Regions from separate parts of the Homo sapiens genome. Here region 2 is linked to region 1. A link means that fine-mapping ties the variant in region 1 to the expression of a gene that starts in the linked region. Tissue or cell type: whole blood. Region 1 holds a variant in brackets; the other region holds the start of a gene. All regions are shown on one strand. Distances are from middle to middle.

Region 1 (5,221 bases):
TAGAATGTAAGTTATTTGGCTTTTGAATAAAATGATTACTTGCAAAGTCTGTTGCAGTTAGAAATGCTTACTGAAGCTGACTCAAATCTTTCCTCCTTATTATTACCTAGTTAAATAAACAAATGGCAAACATTTGTGTGGAGAGTCATATATTACGTGAAGTGCTAGATGGTGGCATGTTAATAAAAGGCCCTACTAGTAAAAAATGTAGAGTTTTTAAAATTGAAGTGAAAAAACCTTTATTGGATTTTTTAGATCTGCCTATAGTAACATCCCCAGTTCCCCTGCTAACATCATCATCATAGCAGTTACAATATATCTATCTCTTATTTTGCCTTAGAGTGGTATTACTCAAAGTGTATATCATGGATCAGTGGCAGTTCATGAACTATGTGTTATCAGTCCATGGTGAGGTAAACACAGACTTTATTAGTCTGTTTTCATGCTGCTGATAAAGACACACCCAAGACTGGGCAATTTACAGATAAAGAGGTTTAATTGGACTTACAGTTCCATGTGGCTGGGGAAGCCTCACAATCATGGCAGAAGGCAAGGAGGAGCAAGTCATGTCTTACATGGATGGCAGCAAGCAGAGAGAGCTTGTGCAGGAAAATTTCCCCTTATAATAAACATTAAACCTCATGAGACTTACTCACTATCACAAGAACAGCTCGGGAAAGACCTGCCCCATGATGCAATTACCTCTCACTGGGTGCCTCCCACAACACATGGGAATTCAAGATGAGATTTGGGTGGTGACACAGCCAAACCATATCACAGACATTGAGAGTAAGCATTTAAAAACTCATATAGCAATTTGACATTTCCTTAATAACCAAGTGGGTGAATCCACCTTGTTGGACAGGAAATAGACAAGTGTGGTACCATCAGACTCAGTGGTGGGTCACTTCTGACATGAGTGTGTATGAGTCACAACATTAAGAAGTTTGGGATCTTAAGGTTATTTTCTCAACTACAATCCAACTGTGCATAAAAATCTGAAATTCACATATTACCTTCTTGCAAAATAATAACAAATAATTGTGAAATTTACAGGATAACTTGTTGGAAATAGTTATTGATGATTTACTGAAAATAAAATTTGAAAACACGGCATCATTTGCATTATTTGGGGTAAGATTTAAAAACAAATAACCTTAACTTGCAGAAATTATCTTAAAATTTCTTTCTCTGTTCTCTTGAATATAGATCTTTGAAATCAGTTCTACTTTTAATGGTAAATAGAAATACTTGAGGTACTCTTTCTCTTCAGTGAACAGAATCTTGTCATAAATGCAACCTCGTAAGCTCATTTCTCACATTACAACTTTACATATTAATATAAATAAAATTTATTCACAGTGTGGGTGTAGGCATTTAATATAGGAAATACAATTTCATACTTAAACGGGATTAGTTACAGTTTTTTTTTCCTTTCTTCCATTTTGTTTCTTAATTGACAAATAGTAACTACATATTCATAAAGTATGTAGTGATGTTTTGATAGATATGATGTACAACAATTCTATTAGGGTAATTAGCATATCTATCATCTCAAACATTTATCATTTCTTTATGTTGGAAACATTTAATATCCTCTTTCTAGCTTTCTGAAACAATATAACATATTATTGTTAACTGTAGTAATCCTACAGTGCTATGGAATGCTAGGAGGTATTCCACTTATCTCGTGCACAGTGGAGAAACAGAAAATGGTTTTTTTTCTATCACATCATCAGGCTGAACATTTTCTAAACTTTTATCCTCTGTTTCCCTTTTAAAACTGAATATTTTAACAGCACCCAAGTCACCTCTTAACTGCTTCAATGCTTAGAAGTTTCTTCTGCCAGATACCCTAAATCATCTCCCTCAAGTTTGAAGTTCCACAAATCTGTAGGCTGCAATAAGTCTACATGGTTTCCAGGAGGTGAAGCCTGAACCCAACTGGCAGCACACAAAGCCTAGAATATCCTCTTTCCTGGTACCACCCTGTGCCACTGGACTCACGGTGTGAGATGAGTGACTGCACAACCACATTCAACAAAGGAGGAGGTACAACTGGGCAGAGACAACATCACAACTAGAGAAGATTACAAAATCATTCAAGAGGATGCTGAGATAAAGTACAGTTACCTACTCTCCATTATTCTTTGCTGAGAAAAGTGAGGGTATGGCATCAGCAGAAAATTATGTTTATTCTTAAATAAATCCCAATAGGATGGGGTTGATAGTCAGGCAGTAGAATGAGATAAAAATCTGCATTCATTAAAAATCTTTGTGCATAAGGAAAAGAACAGCAATGGCAAAGGAGAAAAGAGAGCCTTCTCTTTTTCTTAAATAAGACAGGAAACTGCATTCCTTTCCTTGCTGTAGTGGCAGCAGACTTACTGGTTTTCATAAAACATAATTTCTGCAATGTGGTCTGTTGATAAGGCTGCTCCATGATGGGAGGACAGACATGAGGCCAAGTGTTCATGACAGAACTAGGTCTTCTCTCAAAGCCTCTAATGTGTGCTATTTCTCATGAGGAACCTGACACTATATGACACTTCAGTTAAAGCTTCTGAAATATTGCAATGGCATAATTGACAGGTTTTTTGGTGTGGTGACTTTCTTGTACATGTAAACTCTTTGAGAAAAGTTGGGGATAAAAGGACAGGGGAGCATTTGGTTTAGAGCCACAATGTTCCAGACGCCAGCCACGGATCCCTCTGCCCTGTGTCACTACACGTTCTTTTCTGAGAAACATTCAATTGCTGAGTGTTACACACCGTGGTTGAAGAAAATGATCCACTCACCACCATCCGCTCTCTCTCATCCTCTGTGTGAAGCTCCCAATAGCAGAGGCTGAAGACAGAAAGGTCGTCTCTGTTTCCTTGCACCAGGTACATTACTTGGTGACCTGGTGAATGGCATGGGCAAGGTAGCCCACGTTGCCGGAGGTGACCCCTGCCACAGAAATGCGGCCGTCCTTTGTCATATAGATGGAGAACTCCTTGGTTAGCCACTCCACCTGTTCAGGCTTTAGCCCTGTGAAACAAAACATGCCAGTTTGGGCAGTGCTATGTGGCCAGTTGTGGGTGGAACCCTTCTTCTTGAGGTTGGAGACAAGCTGAGTCCGCATGCTAATGATGTGGTCGGCCATGCCTTTCACTTCTTGCAACCATTGTTTTCATGAATCTGGGGTGTTCAGAATGGTAGAAGCAATCTGGGCCCCATTGTGGGGACGGTTGGCATAC[G/A]TGGAATGGATCAAGATCTTCAACTGTGACTCTACCCTTTTGGTTTCATCGCATCTTTGCATACTACAGTGAAGGCTCCTACACGCTCACAATATAAGCCCATGTTCTTGGCATATGATTGGCAGAGACAAACATTAATGCCCTGTTCAAAGAAGTGGTGCACAGCCCGGGCATCCTTATCACCATCACCACTGGTAAAGCCTTGGTAGGCTATGTCAAAGAAGGCAAAGAGACTCTTCTTCTTCACCATTGTTGCTGTATCCTTCCACTGTTCCAGACCTGGGTCCACTCCCGTGGGATTGTGGGTGCAGGCATGCAGAAGAACAACATTTTGCTCTGGTATTTTTGAAAGGCCCTCCACAGCGCCTGTGAAGTCAAAATCGCAAGTCTTGGGGTCATAAAGCCGATAACCTTGTAGCTGCATGCCAGTGTCCCTGAAGATGGGCGTGTGATTTCCCCAGCTTGGTTTGGGCAGAAAGACATCTCAGCTGAACTTAAAAAATCTTTGCAGAAAGCTGGCTCCAATCCTTAAGGCTCCAGTTCCAGAAATGGTCTGCACAATGACAAACCGGCCACTTTTCAAGACTTCGCTGTTCTCACCAAGGGCTAGTTCTGCAGATGCCTTGCAAAATTCAGCCAGTCCCCCAGTGGACAGGTATTCCTTGTCCAAACTTTTTGTGGCAATCTGGGCCTCTGCCTTGGGGACGCTAGGCAGCACGTCCAAGGCTTTCCGTTATCATCCCGGTAGGCACCAACTCCCAGATTCATCTTTTTGCTATTGGTGTCCCTCTTAAAGTCTTCAATGACTGCCAGGATGATATCTGGAGGTCCCATTTCCACATGGGTCCATCAGGAGCTGGCTCTGGCAGAGGCCGCAGCTGCGAGGCCCAGGTGGAAGGTGGCAGCGATCCCAGAGAGGACGCAGCCAGAGTGCAGCAGGGCCACGGTGGACAGTAGGAGGGCAGTGGGCAGCTGCAGGACTGAGCAGAGGGCTCTCTGTAGTGTTTTAATTGCGAGAGACGATTTGTGAGGCTGATCTGAAGCTGTAGCCAATCTGGTCTGCTTTGCATGTCTTTCTGTATGGTCCATAGCAAATTTGCTGAGGACCTCCATCTTGTTTAACATCCTTGGGAGCAAGACCTGTAACCACTTGGCAAGGTTTTGTGTAGCCTCTGTGTAGCTTGGATTCAATCCTGGCTTAGGGAATGAGTCTTACCTGGTTTGATATCTGCATGACCTTTTGCTATTTGTTGATTCCATTTCTCTCCATGAACTGCCTTGGATTTTCCTTTCTCTGAGCCTTTAGTAAAGTTTGAAAGCCAGAAATATTGGCCACTTGGTGTGGCTAAATTCAGATAATAAGGGAGTTAAGAGGAATTTCTTAAGGAGTGCTCAGCTTAACTAAAAGTGGATATCCAAGTTAGAGTCATATTTAAAAGGTTTCCCTTTTCTTGGACCTTGTTTTGCTGGGAAAAGGTTTTTCTTGGTCAACTGAATTATTTTTTCTTCATTTTGCTTTGCCACTTTTTTAATGCACGCACAAGAGAGGAGAGACCTCTTTTTTTTCTCATGGACTCCAGAAATTAAAAGCACCCAGAGGCCAATAATCCAATTAGGAGATTGGCAAATGAAAGATCTTATGGGGACCGGGTTATCTTCTACCTGTCTGTGTAATTCTATATGTGTTGTGTGTGTGATGTTTACATAAAAAAAAGAGCTCTAATTAATTTTGCCTAAAGGAAGACAAGCACTTGGATCAAATATTTTATGAAAGAGAAGATAAAAAGCTGTGGTACCTTTCAGTTCACGTGACTTTAATCTTGGAGAAATAAAAACAGCCTTAAAGATTATTGGTAAAAAGCAGATGTCATAAAAATGTAAATAGGTGGACTAAATTATGCAGGTCAGATACTAGGTTGGCAAAATATTTTAAGGTCATAAACTGCTTTTTTGGTTTTTGAGAACTTTTCAATTTGCTGGCT
Region 2 (5,133 bases), 36 kb after region 1:
ACAAACCACTGCTCAATGAAATAAAAGAGGACACAAATAAATGGAAGATCATTCTATGCTTACGGATAGGAAGAATCAGTATTGTGAATATGGCCATACTGCCCAAGGTAATTTATAGATTCAATGCCATCCCCATCAAGCTACCAATGACTTTCTTCACAGAATTGGAAAAAACTACTTTAAAGTTCATATGGAACCAAAAAAGGTCCCACATTGCCAAGACAAACCTAAGTCAAAAGAACAAAGCTGGAGGCATCACGCTACCTGACTTCAAACTATACTCCAAGGCAACAGCAACCAAAACAACATGGTACTGGTACCAAAACAGAGATATAGACCAATGGAACAGAACAGAGCCCCCGGAAATAATACCACATATCTACAACCATCTGATCTTTGACAAATCTGACAAAAACGAGAAATGGGGAAAGGATTCCCTATTTAATAAATGGTGCTGGGAAAACTGGCTAGCCATATATAGAAAGCTGAAACTGGATCCCTTCCTTACACCTTATAAAAAATTAATTCAAGATGGATTAAAAACTTAAATGTTAGATCTAAAACCATAAAAACCCTAGAAGAAAACCTAGGCAATACCATTCAGGCAACAGGCATGGGAAGGACTTCATGACTAAAACACCAATAACAATGGCAACAAAAGCCAAAATTGACCAATGGGATCTAACTAAATTAAAGAGCTTCTGCACAGCAAAAGAAACTACCATCAGAGTGAACAGACAACCTACAGAATGGGAGAAAATTTTTACAATCTACCCATCTGACAAACGGCTAATATCCAGAATCTACAAAGAACTTACATAAATTTACAAGAAAAAATCAACCAACCCCATCAAAAAATGGGCAAAGGATATGAACAGACACTTCTCAAAAGAAAACATTTATGCAGGCAACAGACACATGAAAAAATGCTCATCATCACTGGCCATCAGAGAAATGCAAATCTAAACCACAATGAGATACCATCTCACACCAGTTAGAATGACAGTCATTAAAAAGTCAGGAAAAAACAGGTGCTGGAGAGGATGTGGAGAAATAGGAACACTTTTACACTGTTGGTGGGACTCTAAACTAGTTCAACCATTGTGGAAGACAGTGTGGCGATTCCTCGAGGGACTAGAACTAGAATTTGACCCAGCCATCTCATTACTGGGTATATACCCAAAGGATTATAAATCACGCTGCTATAAAGACACATGCACACATATGTTTATTGTGGCACTATTCACAATAGCAAAGACTCGTGAACCATCCCAAATGTCTATCAATGATAGACTGGATTAAGAATATATGGCACATATGCACCATGGAATAGTATGCAGCCATAAAAAAGGATGAGTTCATGTCCTTTGTAGGGACATGGATGAAGCTGGAAACCATCATTCTGAGCAAACTATTGCAAGGACAGAAAACCAAACACCGCATGTTCTCACTCATAGGTTGGAATTGAACAATGAGAATATTTGGACACAGGGAGGGGAACACCACACACCGGGGCCTGTCGTGGGGTGGGGGGAGGGGGGAGGGATAGCATTAGGAGATATACCTAATGTAAATGACAAGTTAACGGGTGCAGCACACCAACATGGCACATGTATACATATGTAACAAACCTGTACATTGTGAACTTAAAGTATAATAATAATAAAAAAAGGTAAAAAAAAAAAAGTAGACACATACTATAATCACCTTGAAAAAAAAAGAAAGTCTTTCAAAGAGATAAAAAATTCCATATACTCCACTTCCTACAATTCTGGCAGTTTCCAAATACTTTTACTTATGTGAAAATGCTATCATATCCAAGAGTGCCTTTAGAGCTAAGCTAACAGTAGGCTACTGATCTTTAGCACATTGCTTTTTCTGTTGTGTTATTCAGGGGGCTTTCTCACATTTATGTTTCCATTTTTCACATTTCACAACTTTCTTTGGAGCACAGATATTTCAGGAAGATTTTAGAGCCTTTGAATAGCATTATGGACTTTTTTGCATTAATTTTTACTTTTACAAAATTGTGCTAAATATTATTTCTGTTAATTAGTGAGTTTTGTTGGGGGCCCCTTAAATTGGAACCCCAGGCTATGCCTCATTTGCTTCACTCTGGTCCTGGCCCTGAGAGAGGAACACAAAAGGGATGGTTAGAAAAACAAGAACAAATGAGCCTCCCAGAATTTTCTCAAACAACAGGCCAGTTAATTAAGGAAAGTAGATATTACATAGCTAGGTATAATGAACATGCAGTCAGTGGATTGTCTCAGTAATTTATGGAGATAACCACCAACAAAAAGTGTATGTGGGTGGGGACAAAAGAGAGACAACAAAGTACTGCAGGCAGAAAGCTTCCTTTTGCTGATTTTGCCTCACAGAATTGAGAGTTTGTTCTTACACACAAGTTTAATGCCACCTTCCTCTGTCTGCCATGGACCAACAAGCAATATATGCTGAGTTAAACTTACCCACAGACTCAGGCCCAGAAAGTTCTTCACCTTCATCTCTTCCTCGGGGTAAGTGGCTTTAATTTTCCTTTCGGCATTTGTATGTCTTCCAGAATTAGATCTTCCTGTTACATTTATGGCTTTAAATCATTGCTTTAAAGATGAGCAGTAGTTTTATATTAATGTTTAACGGGTGTTGCATGGCTTGCCTGTAGATAATCACAACTTTGGGAAAAAAAATTTAAACCTCATACATTTATTTTTTTCAATCAAGTTAGCATGAAAAGCAAACATCACTTGTCTTACTGAGCCTTGGTTAAAAGACTCTGAACACTTTAGGCTACCCTGGGCACACTGCCTATTGGTTACCCCTGCTCTACAGGGATGGAAAGAAGGAAGAAAGAAAGAAAGAAAGAAAAGAAAGAAAGAAAGAAAGAAAGAAAGAAAGAAAGAAAGAAAGAAAGAAAGGAAGAAAGAAAGAAAGAAAGGAAAGAAAGAGAAAGAAAAGAAGAAAGAAAGAAAGGAGAGAAAGAAAAAGAAAGAGAGAGAAAGGAAAGGAAAGAAAGAAAAAGAGAAGGAGGAAGGAAGGAAGGATGGAAGGAAGGAAGGAAAAATATTTTACATGTATGAACTAAGGAATATTTAAGACACATTGCAAACTTGCTGTAATAACAACCTACGTTATTCCAAATTCCTCTACAAAATATCAATACTATGATTAAGTCCCAGTGCATTTTCATCCATAATATTCCTTTCAGAATACAACGTGTAGGCCAGTTGCAGTGGCTCATGCCTGTAATCCCAACACTTTGGTAGGCTAAGGTGATTTGCTTGAGTCCAGGAGTTTAAGGCCAGCCTGGGCAATGTGGCAAAACCTCATCTCTACAAACAATACAAAAAAATAGCCAAGTGTGGGGCACGTGCCTGTGGTCCTAGCTACTCGGGAGGCTGAGGTGAGAGGATTGCTTGAGCCCAAGAGATCAAGGCTGCAGTGAGCTGTAATTGTGCCACTGTACTCCAGCCTGGGTGACACAGCAAGACTATCTCAAAAAAAAAAAAAAAATATATATATATATATATATATATATACTTTTTATACATATATTTTATATATTTTATATATATATATATACTTTTTATACATATATTTTATATATTTTATATATATATATATAAAGTGTAGGCTTAATGAGTAACATACTTCACTCTCTCAAGAGAGGGGAACACTTTCTGGAAAAAAAATCATATTCAAGATCAAAGATTTGAATATCATTACTACCTGATAGTTTCTAGTTTGAAAAGTATCACAGCTTAGAAAGAGACAAGCCACAAAAATACTCGAGCATATCAGTAACGAACCTACTTACCATTTGTTGAAACTGGCACTTTCCTGTGTCTCTGAAGAGTTAGCATTCTGAGTGAAAGAAGCGGGGAACACCAATGTGAGGTAACACATGATGGATAGCATGGCCTGTGGATGGATGGGAAGAAACTAGAAACTGAGGCAGAAAATCAGCATGAAATTATTATGACACATTATTATTTTCTGATATCTAACTGAATTTACTATCATTGATAATATTACAATTGTTTACCAATCTGATATTCATTCCATGTCATGCCAAGCATTTGACTTGTGCTGTTTTAAGACTGTTTAAGTTTTAAACTATTGAATTCTCAAAGTTTTAAGTCAAGAAGAAAGTCTTAGAGCCGTCAATTAAGTTTCAGTATAATTTTCACATAAGAGTAGAGGAAATCAGAGGGTTCTAATAACTATAGGGAGGATTTGGTTGAGTAACATTTTTTTTTAAAGAAAAGAGTAAGTCTTTCTTTTCCTCTATTCATATCTAGCAAAAGGTGGAAAGTGGGCTTTTGTCAGAAAATGAATATAGAGGTAGTGAGACTCTTCCCAAATGTTGCTATGATCCCAAACCAATGGATGCAGAAATTTTTTCTACTTGGATTGTAATAATTATCCTATAAAATGTCATTCTGAGAGTAAACCTGAAGAAAAAATAAGAGTAGAATAAAGCCAGAGCAAAATATGTGACTATAGAACACTGGTCTGATATTGAATGACAGTAAAACCACTATTGGTCTCTGGCTAAACTGCTGAGGCTGTGGTCACTCTGTAGCAAGCACGGTGATTGTGTCTAAGGCAGTCAACAAAACCAGAAGGAGAGATGTGAGTGATAACCGATCTTGCTTATGGCCAAATGGCCAAGGGTTTGGTCTGTTAGAAAAGTGGATAAGGTGTTTGCAAAAATGCCCCTAGAGTTTATTCATTCATTAAAAAATAAGCTCCTACTCTGCACCAGGCATGCTGTGAATACAGCAGTGAACAAAATAGAGAAAATTATTTTCCTTCATAGAGTTTATAGTAAAATAGAGGCACACTTGTGGAAGACAGTATGGCGATTCCTTAAGGATCTAGAGCTAGAAATACCATTTGACCCAGTGATCCCACTACTGGGTATATACTCAAAGGATAATAAATCATGCTGCTATAAAGACACATGCACACGTATGTTTATTGCGGCAGCATTCACAATAGCAAAGACTTGGAACCAACCCAAATGTCCATCATTGATAGACTGGATTGAGAAAATGTGGCACATATACACCATGGAATACTGTGCAGCCATAAAAAAGGATGATTTCATGTCCTTTGTAGGGACATGGA

The links. PIP is the estimated chance that this variant, and not a neighbour inherited with it, causes the effect.
Region 2: it holds the start of KLRB1, and the variant in region 1 is fine-mapped to the expression of KLRB1 in whole blood (TOPMed, PIP 0.91).

The regions. Positions count from the first base shown.
Region 1 is chr12:9,640,681-9,645,901 of GRCh38, reverse strand. It overlaps the pseudogene LOC374443 and the pseudogene GOT2P3. Among named protein-coding and RNA genes, the nearest start is that of CLEC2D, 26 kb to the left of the region's middle. The variant G/A (reference allele first, on the strand shown) is at 3,240.
Region 2 is chr12:9,605,141-9,610,273 of GRCh38, reverse strand. It overlaps KLRB1 (killer cell lectin like receptor B1), which reads left to right and starts at 2,358. Exons shown (of 6, transcript NM_002258.3): 1 at 2,358-2,519. The coding sequence starts at 2,435.